2 separate regions of the Homo sapiens genome follow, and region 2 is linked to region 1. Evidence: fine-mapped expression QTL. Tissue or cell type: lung. Region 1 holds a variant in brackets; the other region holds the start of a gene. All regions are shown on one strand. Distances are between the middles of the regions.

The links. PIP is the estimated chance that this variant, and not a neighbour inherited with it, causes the effect.
Region 2: XXYLT1 starts here. The variant in region 1 is fine-mapped to the expression of XXYLT1 in lung (TOPMed, PIP above 0.99).

What each region holds. Positions count from the first base shown.
Region 1 is chr3:195,064,069-195,072,172 of GRCh38, reverse strand. XXYLT1 (xyloside xylosyltransferase 1) reads left to right here. Exons shown (of 4, transcript NM_152531.5): 4 at 2,062-3,889. The coding sequence ends at 2,458. Among named protein-coding and RNA genes, the nearest start is that of XXYLT1-AS1, 26 kb to the left of the region's middle. RefSeq lists an enhancer at 2,642-3,841. The variant C/T (reference allele first, on the strand shown) is at 3,870.
Region 2 is chr3:195,267,293-195,275,396 of GRCh38, reverse strand. It overlaps XXYLT1 (xyloside xylosyltransferase 1), which reads left to right and starts at 4,238. Exons shown (of 4, transcript NM_152531.5): 1 at 4,238-4,842. The coding sequence starts at 4,339. It overlaps ACAP2 (ArfGAP with coiled-coil, ankyrin repeat and PH domains 2), which reads left to right. Exons shown (of 23, transcript NM_012287.6): 23 at 1-652. RefSeq lists silencers at 3,608-3,837, 4,088-4,617, 4,778-4,957 and an enhancer at 4,208-4,999.

The DNA of each region.
Region 1 (8,104 bases):
CCACCCCACGCCTGCCTTTCCATCGTTCCTCATCAGCCCTGTGATCTTTCCTGTGGCCCTGCTGTGCTGGTGCCCTGTGAGGTCCTGTGGACACAAGAGACTGCACGGGCCACACCCCCAGCTGGGTGAGTCCTCTCCCTCCTGGGTACTCTGGACAGTAAAGAAAGATGGACACGTGGGCTCCGTGGAGCATGAGGTAGTCCAGGACCTCGGCGGCCACAGGTCCTGCCTCCCTGCTTCTCGTGCCCTCCCTCCCTTTGGGTCTCTGCTCCACCTCGGTAAACGCTTCGTTCCCACCCCTCGAAGGGTAAATCGAGCTCCTTGGTGGTAAAGCACCCACTGCCCCTAGTCAGAGGGTCCCTCCTCTCTGATGTCATGGTGCCCTGGTCTGCCTGGTAGAATTTTAGCTGCTTTATAACCTGGTCCTGAAATGAACCACTGGGAAGAAATAGGGTAAAATGAACACACAGCTGCCACACTGCATCCCAACCCTGTGTGACCCTATCACCGCAGACTTTTGTGGCAAGATGACAGCATCTCAGTTTGCTTGAGAAGCTTATTTTTGCCAAGGCTGTTACCACCAGGCAGGCACCAGAGCTCGGTTCCACTCACAGCAGAACACAAGCAGTGGCCCTGTGGATTCCCCTGTAAGAATGTCCGGAGGGAATGCTTCCCCCTCGCCAGGATCAGACTCTTGGCACTCTCTGTGATACGTGAGACCTTGAGGAAGGTTCCTCCGTTCCCAGAAGCGGAGCAATGTGCTGGTGCTGAGAAGTGGCCCCTCAGGGCCACCCTGGGCAGGGTCTCCGGTTTTATTCCCCCGTACCTTCTGCTTCATCACGCAGATCCTATCCTGGGTTTGGGTGGGGAAGTCTCTCTGCGGGGGCCGGTGGGGCAGCATCTCCAGGCTGGGAGGCAGAGCTGGTTCTGCCACGATGTGTCCTCCCCGTGAGGACCCACTCCCACGCCTGTCCCTGCCACAGTGGGCCTCCTGATGGTCCTCCTTCCTCCAGGTCACCGGCACGATTGCTGTGGCCCCTCCTCTGTGGGTGTGGGCTTGGACGCCTCTCCCCTCCACCTGCACACCCCTTGCAGCACACATGAGGCTTAGCTATTAAAGAGGCTGGAGGACAGTGCAGCGCTTTAACCCTGGCCCTCACAGGGAGGTGTCTAGGTCTTTCTTCTCCCCTCCAGATGGAAGCATTTGGGTAGAGGACCTAGAAGAGGCTAACACTCCCTGAACTATGAACCTAGATTGGTTTCTAAATCTGCTGAGAGAAAAATTGAACTTGAAGTGACATTCCTTCTAAAGTAGACATCATCCTACATGGCTCTTCTACAGCTGTCTTTCACCCTAACCCATGGTGTGCCCTGGGCTGTCGCAGGCCCCCAGCCCCTGCCCAGCCTTTCTGAAGTGCCAGGCTTGGGGCTCAATGAATGAGCCTTGTTCTAAAGCAGAAAACAGTTCTGTTCCAGTCAGGGTTCAGCTGCCTGCGTCTTGATGAGATCTCTGTTCAGGATTGTGTCCCCTGCTTCTCTCTCCCTTCTCCTTTTCAAGATCACAGGTGAAGACAAGGGGGTGGAAAGTTCTACCTAGATTGCTGCTATCTTAAGAATGTGGACTTTGGAGCCAGATTGTCTGGGTTTAGTCCCTGCGTCTGCTGCTTACTAGGTGTGTGACTTTGGGCAAATACCTTGACCTCTCTGTGCGTCCGTTTTCTTGGCTGTGAAATGATGTATCATCTCAGAGCACCCATCCCCTGGGGTTGTGTGGGGAGTAAGTAAGCCGGTCTAGTATGGCGCCTGGTACATCCTCAGTCAATAATATCAATGTTGGCTGTGGTGAGGACGTAGCAGAGGATGGTAGAAAGAATCTGAGGCTTGGGGTCCAGAGCCCTGGGTTCAGGTCCCAGCTCTGCCACTTGCTGGTGTAGTGATGCGGATTCTGCACCCCGGAATGTGGCAGTGTTTGCATGCAGGCTGGCTGTGAAGACCCAGGGCAGCAGGCCGGCAGGCTGGTTCCCCTGCACACCGGACTAACTCTGTCCTCTCTCTCCACAGGCACACATTCTGGCAGTTCCGCCATGAGAACCCCCAGACCCGGGTTGGGGGCCCGCCCCCCGAGGGGCTGCCGGGCTTCAACAGCGGGGTGATGTTGCTGAACCTGGAGGCCATGCGCCAGTCCCCGCTCTACAGCCGCCTGCTGGAGCCGGCGCAGGTGCAGCAGCTGGCCGACAAGTACCACTTCCGCGGCCACCTCGGGGACCAGGACTTCTTCACCATGATCGGCATGGAGCACCCCAAGCTCTTCCATGTGCTGGACTGTACCTGGAACCGGCAGCTGTGCACCTGGTGGAGGGACCATGGCTACAGTGACGTCTTCGAGGCCTATTTCAGGTGTGAGGGCCACGTCAAGATCTACCACGGGAACTGCAACACTCCCATCCCGGAGGACTAGGCGCTCCCCGTGCCTTGCCCCCGGGGCCTCCAGATCTGGGGGAAGGACAGGGTTCCTTGGGACAGACCCAAGGGCAGTGTCTGACCCGCTAGAGAGACACCGCAGGGAAGTCCTGTGATTAAGGTGCTGAGACCTCCTGCCGGGCAGGTCACTGTGCTGAGGCCACCCGCCAAGGACTGGCCTGTGCACTGCTGGTGCTTGGGACCTTATTCCTCCAGGGAGCAGGCGACACAAAGGACACGCATGTCCAGTGGGCTGGGAAGCAAGCACTTGAAGAGAAGGAAGGGGAGAAAGGGTCCCCCTTGCTGTCTGCCTCTGAGGAATGGAAATCCTTTAGACCCGGCCTTTTTTGGACCAATATAAATTTAATTTAAATTGACAGCCTTCCATTTTTCGAGAAAGTACAAACAGAACTGCTTTAGCACCCATCGAGCCCCAAACGGGTAAGGTAAGCCAAGGTTTTAATGACCAGCCCAGTATCTAAGCTTCCAAACGAATGCCAGCCCATCACATACTCACCCTGGGAGGCTGCTGCACGCGCATTCTCCTGATGCTCACGTCACTTGGTGTAGGTTTCAGGATCGCCTCTTTGAGGAAGGACTTCAGGACCAACTGGGGCCTGCATAAGAAAACTTATCTCATTATTAGAGTACTCACAGCTTGTATCTCCCAGCTACATCCTAGAACCCCATTGTCCTTTATTCCACCAAACCAGCTCCAGGTGACCAGACTCTACTCAGAAAGCAAATTCGTCATCAAAGAACAGAGACTGGCCACCACAAGGACATGCAGGAGAACTGTCGGGACCAGGAAGACTCATTCCAAAAAGCCCAGGCCGGGCACAGTCGTCAAGCCTGTAATCCCAACACTTTGGGAGACCGAGGTGGGGGTATCGATTGAGCCTCGGAGGTCGAGATCAGCCTGGGAAACACAGGGAGGCCCCCATCGCTACAAAATATTTTAAAAATTAGCCAGGTGTGGTGGCTTGTGCTTGTTGTCCCGGCTACTTGGGAGGCTGAAGTGGGAGGGTGGCTTGAGTCCAGGAGTTCACTGCACTGAGCTGTGATCACACCACTGCACTCCAGCCTGGACGACAGAGTGAGACGTCCATCTCAAAAAAAAAAAAAAAACCAAAAAGGAACCCAGCAATTCCCAAGTGTGACCATGTGGGCTTGGAAGACATGTCACTCATGGGCTAGTAAGCATTCTAGTTTCTTTGTTTAAAAAATCCCCTTATCATACCACGTTAGACCGTAGACCTTAGCAGAAATTAAAGCGTCATTTCTTTTGATGGGGCCTCCTGTACGTAGGCTGCAGACGTGAAAGCCCCAGGGGTCCATTTGTATCAATTTTCATCTTGTTTTGTTTTGATTTCATTTACGTTTTTCTTTTTCCCATGAGTGAGGATAGC[C/T]AATAAATCATCTTTGAGAACATGGTGATTCATGTTGTTTGTTCTCTGATCACAGTTTCAGCTGCATGAAGGCTCTGAATCAAGTGTGTACTCAATGCCATTGGAATCCCCACCTCCCCTGATGAAGATGAGTGCTTACAGGAGATCCTAAGGACCAAGGAGAGGGCACATCTGAGAGGGTGTCAGAGAGGGTAGTATTGGCATGTTTGGTTCAAAGCAAGGAATCATTTCATTCTAGGTATTGGCAGGTCCACCTGCACTGGGGAGCAAAAGCATCCCCATTTCTTCTCATCCCTCTTACCCTAGACTGCCCAGTTACATCCTGCCCTGAAGAGGTGGAGCAGATATCTTTCCCAGCCCTCTGCTGTGACAGAATTGGTCTGTTCTCTCACCTACTTGATTTCCTATTTATAGGTAACAATTCTTGAATGCCTGCTGTGCACCAGCCATTGTATTGGGGGATTTATTACGCTATTGATAATGTTTATGAAAACTTCATGAAGGTCATTATGTCTAAAGTCGACTGTAAGAAAATGTGAGAGATGTGGACAGAGTCATATACTATATGTTTATCACATTTTTTATAGTAGAAGAAAATTGGAAGCAACTTAAAATGTGAAAAAGAGGGGCCAGGCGCGGTGGCTCACACATGTAATCCCAGCACTTTCAGAGGCTGAGGCCGGCAGATCTCTTGAGCCCAGGAGTTCAAGACCAGCCTGGGCAACATGGCAAGGCCCAGTGTCTACAACTATACAAAAATTAGCTGGGCATGGTGGTGCACGCCCAGCTATTCAGGAGGCTGAGCTGGGAGGATCACTCAAACCCAGGAGGCAGAGGCTGCAGTGAGCTGAGATCACGACACTACACTCCAGCCTGGGGGACCGGGCAAGACTCTGTCTGTCTTTAAAAAAAAAAAAAAAAAAAAAAAAAAAAGAATGGAATAGGTAGATGAATAATATGCTTCATCCATATAACAGAATACTTGAGGCATTATTCGAAGAATATGTAATGCCTCAGGAAATACTTAGAATGTGCTATTAAATAAAGAATGCAAAATGTAAGATCATATGTTTAATACGATCCTATTTTTAAAATTACATATATGTGTATGTATATCAGTGTACACACGTGTGTATAGATACATACCTACACACACACGTATGTATAAAAAGAGCATCTATTCTGCTGTATTTCAACTTCTAAAAACATAGGTGTTTCAAACACCACATTAAAAAAACAATTATTTCAACGGGAAAAAAGTGAGTTAAAGGCTAAAGAATTTTAGACTCACAATAATAAAGGTATTTTCCCTGCAATCCTTTCTATAATTAAAATGTGTCTATAGCTATGTGTGTATTTTGTTGTTGCAAGAAAAAAACAATAAGCTGGTTGGTCAAAATGGGCAAAGGCCAAACAACATCCCTCATTTACTTTTAAGTAAACCTCTCAGGAGCTTCCCCTCTGTCACCAGTGGCCTCGACCTTCCAACCCCCCAGTGCACAGCAGACTGTCACTGCACAGGCACCCCAGCCCACCCACAGATCACACCCCAGCCCGCTGACAGATCACACCCCAGCCCGCTGACAGGTCCCACCGCAGCCCACCAACAGATCCCACCCCGGCCCGCGGACAGATCACACCCCAGCCCGACAGATCACACTGCAGCCCACCAACAGATCACACCCTGGCCCATAGACAGATCACACCCCAGCCTGCTGACAGATCACCACATAGGCACCCCAGCCCGCCGACGGATCACCACACAGGCAGCCAGCCCACCGACAGATCACTCCACAGCCTGCCGACAGATCACACCCCGGCCCACCGACAGATGACTTCACAGGCACCCCAGCCCGCCCACAGATCACCGCACAGGCACCCCAGCCCGCCCACAGATCACACCCCAGCCCCCCGACAGATCACCGCACAGGCACCCCAGCCTGCCCACAGATCACACCCCAGCCCGCCGACAGATCACACCCCAGCCTGCGGACAGATCACTGCACAGGCACCCCAGCCCGCCCACAGATCACACCCCGGCCCGCCGACAGATCACTGCACAGGCACCCCAGCCCGCCCACAGATCACACCCCAGCCCACTGACAGATCACACCCCAGCCCGTCAACAGATCACACCCAGCCCACCAACAGATCACTGCACAGGCACCCCAGCCCGCTGACAGATCACACCCCAGACCGCTGACAGGTCACACCACAGACCGCCAACAGATCACACCCCGGCCCACCAACAGATCACTGCACAGGCACCCCAAACTGCCCACAGATCACACCTCAGCCCACCGACAGATCACTGCACAGGCACCCCAGCCCGCCGACAGATCACACCCGAGCCCGACAGATCACACCCCAGCCTGCCGACAGATCACTGCAGAGTCACCCCAGCCCGCCCACAGATCACACCTCAGCCCCCCGACAGATCACTGCACAGGCACCCCAGCCCGCTGACAGATCACACCCCAGACCGCCGACAGATCACACCCCAGACCGCCGACAGATCACACCCCAGACCGCCGACAGCTCACACCCCAGCCCGCAAACAGATCACCGCACAGGCACCCCAGCCCGCTGAGAGATCACACCCCAGGCCGCTGACAGATCACAGAGCGCCGACAGATCACACCCCGGCCCGCCAACAGATCACACCCCGGCCCGCCAACAGATCACACCCTGGCCCGCCGACAGATCACCGCACAGGCACCCCAGCCCGCCCACAGGTCACCGCACAGGCACCCCAGCCCGCCCACAGATCACCGCACAGGCACCCCAGCCCGCCCACAGGTCACACCCCAACCCGCTGACAGATCACTGCACAGGCACCCGAGCCTGCTGACAGTTCAAACCCCATCCCCCCGACAGATCACTCCCCAGCCCGACAGATCACCGCACAGGCACCCCAGCCCGCCGACAGATCACACCCCAGCCCGCCCACAGATCACCGCACAGGCACCCCAGCCCGCCCACAGATCACACCCCAGCCCGCTGACAGAGCAGCCGGGGCTTGCTGTGCCTCGCCATTGCCGTGCTTGACAAGTCGTGGAGTGCCAGCTCCTGACCTGGGTCCTGTTACAGTTGCTGTCATGCAAGCATAGTTCCTTGTGCTGTGCTTAACTTGCTTCATGGAAACCCACTCTCGAGAATACGCCTGTACATATGAGGAAAACAGAAATCTGAAAAGATAACATGTCTGGGTGCTAGGATTAAGGTGCTTTTTGTTTTCATCTATATTTCTGTATTTTCCACATCGAGTATTAATTACCTTTATTATAAGATAATAAATGCTGTACATTTTTAACCACATCCCTTCTCCCCAGTTCCAGGTGAGTGTCAGCCTGGCCGTCTTACAGCTCCCGGCTGTCCATGGCCGATGTCACCCCTAAGAACACATAATCTAGGCTGAGTCGGCTCTGGGTCTTCAACTTCCCTGTGGATGCCCCAGTTCTCCAAATAAAAGCGATCTAATAATAGCAGCTCCAGACCCTGCTTTCATTTCTCATATACTGTCATCTTTTGTGTATACACAAAGTCCACCCTACAAATGATGATGGCCTTTGGAAAGCACGCAGGCTTGCTGAAGAGATTTGCTCTTCTGTGTGTGTCAAACCAAACAGACTGCGGCCTCTCCTTCAACAGCATTTCATCAAGTCAAAGTATGATGTGTTGGTTCACAGGCCCAACCTAGAGCACACCAGGAGTTTGTAGGTTAAGGTAGTAAGTGCAGCTGTGTCTTGGCACCTGCTTTGACTAGAGGCCAAACCTCTGCTAATTTTAACACTTCCTGGCTGATCTTAATATGGGAGGCCCACGGGCTGGGCTAAATCTGGAGGTTGGCAGGGAGCAGAAATTTCCAAGCAAGCAGGTGGTATAGTGGAGACAGCCTCACACCCGAGACGGAGGCCTGGCTTTGAGTCCACATCCTGCCCTCACTACCTGGCCATCTTGGACAGGCAAGGCCACCTCTTTCCCCAGTTCTAGACACTGGTAAGAGCTCCTCAAAGGAGTGTGGAAGGAGGAAAAGATGTGTAAGGACTTGGTAAGCTGTGAAATAATACAGATGTAAGGGAATTCTAACCATTATTACTTAGAATATTCTTTTTAAATTATAAATTACAGCCGTTTTGGAGCTCATGAAATGTGTTGGTAGCATCTCCGTAACCCCATGGATGAACAGATGCATGCTTGTAAGCTGTCCAATTTTTGTTGGCTGTGCCACTCCA
Region 2 (8,104 bases), 200 kb before region 1:
AAGTAATTTTAATTCACCACATACTTATCAATTTCTTGATGCTTCCAAATGACATCTACAGATATGGTTTTGTGGACATCTTTTTCTGTTTACATAAATTTATCCACTTAAAATGTGATAATGTGGAGACAAAGCAAGATTTGATTACATAAACTTTTCTCTGCATTGGTCTTTTCACTATCTTATTTGCTAACTTTTCTTATTTTTCTTCAACCTCCCCACCCTCCATTTTTTGGATATTAAACAGGGAAAGCTTGCTACATTATAAAGATTGTTGGCACCATTTATTTTACACAAAGGCTAAAGGTTAACTTTTGGAAATGATGAGCTACTTTTATATATGTGTTTACTCATGCTTTGTGATATTTCTGGATCATTCCAGTCATAAAGACTTATTACATGTACTATTTCTTGCTACCTGTGAAAAGGTATATTTTAAAGAATGTATAACCAACAGTCCATTTACTTTTTATTAGTATGTAGAGGATTTGTATCTAATTCATGAATGTAGTTTTACAGTAGTTTGTCATTGTAAATGGAGCAAAGTACATTATCTTCTAAAATGTACATTATGTAAGAATTGTAAATATACTTAAGTAATTTGTATGCCAAAAAATTACAATAAGTCAATAAAGATCTCACCTCTGGCTTAGTTCTTTCATGGTGATTTACATTTTCTTGTGAAATACACTGTGAACATATCTGTCAACAGCAGTTATTTTTAAGGTACTATTATTTTTAAGGTATTTCTTCCCAGCCCTTTCAAATCCACATTCATCCTATTTGCTGATTACTTCAATCAAGAAATCCATTTGGATCTTTTAAGTATATAATTCTCTTTGTTCACAGAGCTGTTATAGCCCCTAATTCATTGGCAAAAAGATAAAAGGTTTTTTTTGGGGGGTGGGGGGAGGGGCTTGCTCTAAGTTTTTTCCATTATGATTGACATTAATGTTCCTAATCTATGCAGCACATTCCCATTTTATCCTTTTAGTAAACAGACACACACACGTTTGTCAGTGAATTGGGACTGAAGGAATGGAAGGTTGAAAAAACCAAACTGGAAGTGTATCACCTGCATTTGCTTTAAAAAAAAAAAAGCTAATTGAAAGCAGACACATAAACTTTTCAATATAACTTGCTTTATTCAGCTTCATTTCATTTTCAGAATAGTTCTGTGGAGAACCCACATCAATAGTCTATAAATATTTTAAGTGAAAACAGTTTAATTTTTCAATTATTGCAAACACAAAGCTTTTTGCTTGTGGAGAAATGTTAAGAAGAAGCAAGAGAATCATCCACAATTCCATTATCTTGTGCTGTCCAAAATGGAACTCACTAGCTACATGTGGCTACTTAATTGGAATTAGACAAAGAGTTCATTTCCTCAGTCGTACTGCTACATTTTAAGAACTTTATAGCCCCATGTGGCTAGTGACTATTGTTTTGAACAGGGGAGATTGTAGAATATATACATTGTCACAGGAAGTTCTACTGGATAGCACTGAGGGAGATACTGTTACTTTTTTGTGTATACCCTTCTAGACCTTTGGGTGTGTGTATTCATACATTTATATAATGGGATCATACAGTTACCCACTTCTTTCACTTAATAGATGGGGAGAACTTTATGGGAAATTTCAAGCATGTACAGGTAGAGAAAATCAATAGCTATAAGCTCATGGCTTATATTTGTTCTCCTACCCATTTTTCCCCTTTCCTGGACTTTTTGGAACCAGATCCTAGACCTTTCACCAGCAAATCATTCCGTATGTACATCTAAAAGTTGAGGACTTTAAAAAATCGTAACACTTCTTAAACTGTAAAACTACATAATCAATATTCAAATTGGTTTCTCAAATACGATTTTTAAAATAGATCGTGCAAATCAGAATTCACATAAGTTCCATACGTTGCAGTTGGTGAATATGTTTCTTAGTCTCTGTAGGTTTTTTTTTCCATTTGTTACCATTACTATTTTTTTTTTGGAATTGGGGTCTCGCACTGTCATCCAGGCTGGAGTCCTGTGGCGATCGTAGCTCACTGCAGCCTTGGACCCCTGAGCTCAAGTGATCCTCCCACCTCAGTCTCCCACATAGCTTGGAGTACGGGTATGAGCCACCTCACCCATTTGTTAGTTTTTTAAATTTCCACCTGCAGTTTGTTGAAAACATCACTTTTAATGACTGCATTATTTTAGCTTTAACCACTTTATTGATGACCATTTGATTCTGATTTTTTGCCATCATGAACCTAGCTTTGCTTTATTTTTATGTTTGTTTTTTGAGACAGGGTCTCGCTCTCTTTCGCCAGGCTAGAGTACAGAGGCACAATCTCGGCTCACTGCATCCTCTGCCTCCTAGGTTCAAGCGATTCTCTTGCCTCAGCCTCTCGAGTAGCTGGAATTGCAGGTGTCCGCCACCACACTGCCTACTTTTTTTTTTTTTTTGAGACAGGGTTTTGCTCTTGTCGCCCAGGCTGGAGTGCAGTGTTATGATCTCGGCTCACTGCATCCTCTGCCTCCTAGGTTCAAGCGATTCTCTTGCCTCAGCCTCTCGAGTAGCTGGAATTGCAGGTGTCCGCCACCACACTGCCTACTTTTTTTTTTTTTTTGAGACAGAGTTTTGCTCTTGTCGCCCAGGCTGGAGTGCAGTGTTATGATCTCGGCTCACTGCAACCTCCACCTCCCAGGTTCAAGCGATTCTTCTGCCTCAGCCTCCTGAGTAGCTGGGATTACAGGCGCCCGCCACCATGTCTGGCTAATTTTTTGTATTTTTAGTAGAGACGGGGTTTCGCCATGTTGGGCAGGCTGGTCTCGAACTCCTGGCCTAAGGTGATCTGCCCTCCTCGGCCTCCCAAAGTGCTAGGATTACAGGCGTGAGCCACCATTCCCGGCCTAAGCCACCATGCTTGGCCTTGCTTTATTCTTATGGTTAAATATTTTGAACATTCTTAAATTATTAGGAAGATTTTCTAGAAATAAAAATGCTGTTTCAATGGTTGAGTATATTTTTGAGACTCATCCAATGTGGTAGGCACCGTGTTAGGTACTGGGTATATTGTGGTTAATAAAAAACAAATGTATATTCTGTTCTCTTGGAGTCACGTGTTCTTGCAATGAAGAAAGATGAGACTAGGGTAGTACATATATTTAGGTGGCCCTCACAGAATTATTGAGGATGGCACTTAGCCCAGACACTGGATAGGAGGTATTTAGAGATCATTTGTGTAGGTAGTGACATGTAAGCCAAGGTCTGAAGCAGAGAGGTTGGATAATCCATGCAACCTTACAATGTGGAAATAACAGGAAAAACCGTTTACCTAATCTCTGGTCAGAAATCAGAGAACTTGGCCAAAGAACTGAAGGGTTACTGTACTTACTCAAGTTCTTTGTCTATTTAGACAGCATGCACAGCACTTGCACGTGTTTACTTAAAAACTACTGGTATAGCCTCAATTCTTAGAAGACTGAAGTTAGTACGTTTTTATCTAGTTAGCAGTGTGCAACTGCCTAGGGTCAAAATTGCTACTGGCTAGCTGTGTGACTTTGGGCACGTGACCTCGGCGTGCAAAACTCCCTGGTACCCTCAAGGAGGCTCTTGATAAAGTGTTAAAAGTCTGTTTATAAAACAAAAGTGGATGAATGTCGCCCTCCAGGGCTTTGCGGTGCTGGGGCTCGGGGAGCAGCCTCGCAGGTTCGTGCGGGCGGCGGGGGCCCCCTGCTGGCCACATCCTCCAGCCTCCCTCCGCTCGGCCTCCGGCGCGACGTGCGGCCCGGGCCATTTCCTCCCAGGGCGGGGGAAAAGGGAGGAGCTGCCGGTTTAAATTGCCTAGCTGCAGCTCGTGTGCAGGGAGAGGCCGAGACGGCTTAAAGCCTCCAAGAAATTGAGGGAAAAAAGGTGCAGAGATTAAAGTTTTACCTCTTGGTGCCTCCAGCTTCGCTTTTGGCTAACCTAAGTTCCTCTGTTCGGGCGCCTCCATTCCCTTCAACACTCAGCTTGGATATCCTCTGGGGCTCGCCGCGTAGGGCGCCATTTCTCAGCCGGGACAGCGGGCCAGCCCTCAGCACGCTGGAGTCCGGAATCCCCCCCTCCCAACGCCGGGCGCCGGATCCCACCCTAACCCCTCCTCTAATACCCTTGGAACCTAGGACCCAGCGGTTTCGGCACGCCCGGCCCCGCCCCTCCGCGCACCGGCGCCCGCGATTGGCTCCAGGCGGCGCGGCCCCGCCCCTTTCATGGCCGCCGCCTGGCGCCGGGGCTAAGTGGCCGCCGGCGTCCGGGTACCCGAGGGCTCTCCCGCGTTGCTGGCACCGCTGGCGCCGCGGTCTCGTAGCGCATGGGCCTCCTCCGAGGCGGGCTCCCATGCGCTCGGGCCATGGCGCGCCTGGGCGCTGTGCGCTCCCACTACTGCGCCCTGCTGCTGGCCGCGGCGCTGGCCGTCTGCGCCTTCTACTACCTCGGCTCAGGCCGGGAGACCTTCTCCAGCGCCACCAAGAGGCTGAAGGAGGCCCGCGCCGGGGCTCCCGCCGCGCCCTCGCCGCCCGCGCTGGAGCTAGCGCGGGGCTCCGTGGCGCCAGCCCCCGGCGCGAAGGCCAAGAGCTTGGAGGGCGGCGGTGCCGGGCCGGTGGACTACCACCTGCTGATGATGTTCACCAAGGCGGAGCACAATGCCGCGCTGCAGGCCAAGGCCCGCGTCGCGCTGCGCTCACTGCTGCGCCTCGCCAAGTTCGAGGCGCACGAGGTGCTTAACCTTCACTTCGTGAGCGAGGAGGCCAGCCGCGAGGTGGCCAAGGGCCTGCTGCGGGAGCTCCTGCCGCCCGCCGCTGGCTTCAAGTGCAAGGTGAGCGGGCCGCGGCTGGGGGCTCCCGGTGGGTGGCCCACCCCATCCTAGGCGAGGTCAGTTTGCGCTCCCGGAGGGGATCCGGGGAACTAGCGGGTAGGATCTTCCCTGAGCTGCCCGCTTGCAATGTAGTGTTCACAACCTGCGGGAGGGCTCGTTCGGGGGCGTGTCCGGGAGCCAGACGCCCTCAGCTGGTGCTGAGGAGTGGAGCTGCGTTTTTAATGACCGCCTCGTTTTCCTCTCCCCCAGTTAAGCGCAGCCCCCAGGAGAGTCCGCGCGCCCCCATTTTGCTAACGTTGCAGGGTTCAGCACTGCCTTCAGAGTCTGCACCTCTGTTTATGTTCCTCAGTTTTTGACTTCTGAGGATGGGACTGGTCACCAGTAGTCATCCTGAGCAACTGGAGAGGGCCTTGGTGAGGCCTCTGGAAGTGTTGAAGTTGCAGTGACACTTCTCATTGCTCTTAAGGTATTTCAGTAGGATCTGGTCAAACTCATTGTGAACCATCTTATCTCCTCTCTGTGTCCCTTTTTCCCCTTCCTCCAAGGGTCATGAACCCATTTAGAGAAGCCTGGAGTTCCTCCGAATGAGGAAGAGAAAGCTCAAGAGGAACAGATATGATCTGGGGAGAGCACAGCTGGCCGCCTTGTCCCAGGCTGGACCAGTCTGCCTCCATGACAGCTTCCATCTCTGTTTATCATCTGTCTTCACTGCCTGGCTCTCCTTGTCTGAGATGTGTTTCTGACATAGTGTGAATTGCCTAGGTCAAATTGCTTATTTGATTTTGACCTAATAGTTGTACAGAGGGGATCCGAGGCCAGATTTTAAGGAGTAGTAGGTAATATTAAAGGGTGGAGACTGATGTTGGTTGGGGAAGCATGCTGAGACAGGAGTTGTATTATGTGAGTGACTAGGGGAGCTGTTGCCAGGATCCTACAGGCTTCGGGAGTCTCTGATAGCTCCTTGTTGCCTACGGGGTGAAGTCCCAGTTTATTGGTAGGGCTGTTGTGTTGTGAGCCTGGTCCACTTCTCTGGCTTCACCTCTCCTCCTTTGTCTACATGCACCTCATACCTTAGCTATGTAGGGAGTGGGCCTTATACATGCTGTACTGTCTGCCCACAGTGTCCTCTTGGGCCCTTGGCCATTCTTTACTCAGCTTTCACCTCTCCTGAGAAAGTCCCTAGACCCTGGGACCTCTGAAGGTCCTCGCTGGAGGAGGAGCCTGGCAACCTGTCCCAGGTGATCCTAATGACCCTAATATTTGAGAAACTTTGCACTAGTTCACGGTAGAAAACTGAGGGCCCTTGGCCATAGGGTCAGTCTGGGCAGATCTTGGGATTTGACCAGGTCTCCAAACACCGCCTTGAAGATAGCATTGTCATCTCTTCTGGGCCTACTCTGCACCGTTGCCGGATCTCTGTCCCCTTGTCCCCAGCTCCCGCTGCAGCGCTAGCTGCACAGCCAGTGCTTTCCAGCCTACTTGCCTTTGCTTTTGTCATTCCCACTGTTGGGGTGCTCCTTCTCTCCATCTCCAAGTCTTGCCCATCTTCAGATACCATCCCCTCCTTGGAGCCAAGGAAGCGTCCCTTCTTTCCTTTTCTACTTCCCTGGTGCTGTGACTGTATCATGTCTTATCATCCATCCCTATGTACAATGCCTGGCACTCTTAGTTGGCACCAGAAATATTGGCCCAGGGGTAGATCCAGCCTCAGGGCCGAGCCCCTCCTGTCTTGGAGTAAGTGTTTCATGCTCGGACTACCCCACTTTACTGGGCCCAGTTCTGGCAGCCTCACTCAAGGCCTGGAGGCAGCTGCAAATGACCAGAGGGAACTGATACCTCCTCTGTTGAGGGGTGAGGGTTTAGTGTCTGGGGACTTCTAGCCAGATGTCAGTGATTGGATAAGGGGTTATCAGTCCTGGCATAAAATTGCTCCCGTTACTTCTTTTTTTTTTTTGTGAGATGGAGTTTCGCTCTTGTTGCCTAGGCTGGAGTGCAGTGGCACGATCTCAGCTCACTGCAACCTCTGCCTCCTGGGTTCGAGCGATTCTGCCTCAGCCTCTCGAGTAGCTGGAATTACAGGTGCCCACCACCACGCTGGCTAAATTTTTTGTTTTTTTTTTTTTGAGACAGAGTTTTGCTCTTGTCGCCCAGGCTGGAGTGCAACAGTGTGATCTCGGCTCACTGCAACCTCTGCCTCCAAGGTTCAAGTGATTCTCCTGGCCCAGCCTCCTGAGTAGCTGGGATTACAGGCGCCCGCCACCACGCCCGGCTAATTTTTTGTATTTTTAGTAGAGATGGGGTTTCATCATGTTGGCCAGGCTGGTCTCAAATTCCTGACCTCAGGTGATCCACCCACCTTGGCCTCTCAAAGTGCTGGAATTACAGGCGTGAACCACCGCGCCTGGCCTCCGTTACTTTGTTTTGTTTTGTTTTTGATAAGAATTCTTGCTATGTTGCCCAGGCTGGTCTTGAACTCCTGAGCTCAAGCAATTCTCTTGCCTTAGCCTCCTGCATAGCTGGGATTACAGGCACACACCACTGCACCTGGCATTCCCATGATTTTTGAGTTCATATTTTGTAAATTTTTCTGTTTGTGATGAAAAGTGCTCTTTTTTTCCTTTAAATGTGCGATTCTAAAAGGTTTGCTTCATTTTACTTGTGATTTAATTCTTCCTCAGGTTTGGAATATTCCTGAAAAGAACATATGTCACATGCCTTTCCTCTGTCTGGAGTTCTCCCTGCCTCCATCCTTGGTACTCAGCTTTCAGGTCTCGGCTTTGGTGTTCTTTCCTTGGTAAACCTTTCCTGAGCCCCCATTACACACTTTCAAACTCCAAGCACTGTTCCTTAGTAACATTTATCACAGTTGTATTTATATAATCGTTGGAGTAATTATTTGTCTTCCTTGCTAGACTCTAAACTCCTTAAGGGCACTGACATTGACGTGTCTTAAATGCTGCCTCCCTAGCACCTGACAGATGAGGGAATTTTATACTGGAATTGTTTTTTCAGTATTGACTCGGAAGAAGGAAACTAGAATTTCTCACTCTGGCTGTGCCAGAGCTGGAAGGGATTTGGAGTATATAGCATGACAGGTGAGGAAACTCGCCCAAGGCTTTCTGGAGAAGTTACTCAGTTGTGGCTGGACCTGCATCCTAGGTCAGTGCTGTTCCCTTTGTGCTGTATTTCCCCTTTAAGGAGCACTTCTGTCTTGTAAAGTCCAGGGGGCAGTTTATTCCCAGGGAGAATTGATTTGAGTGGT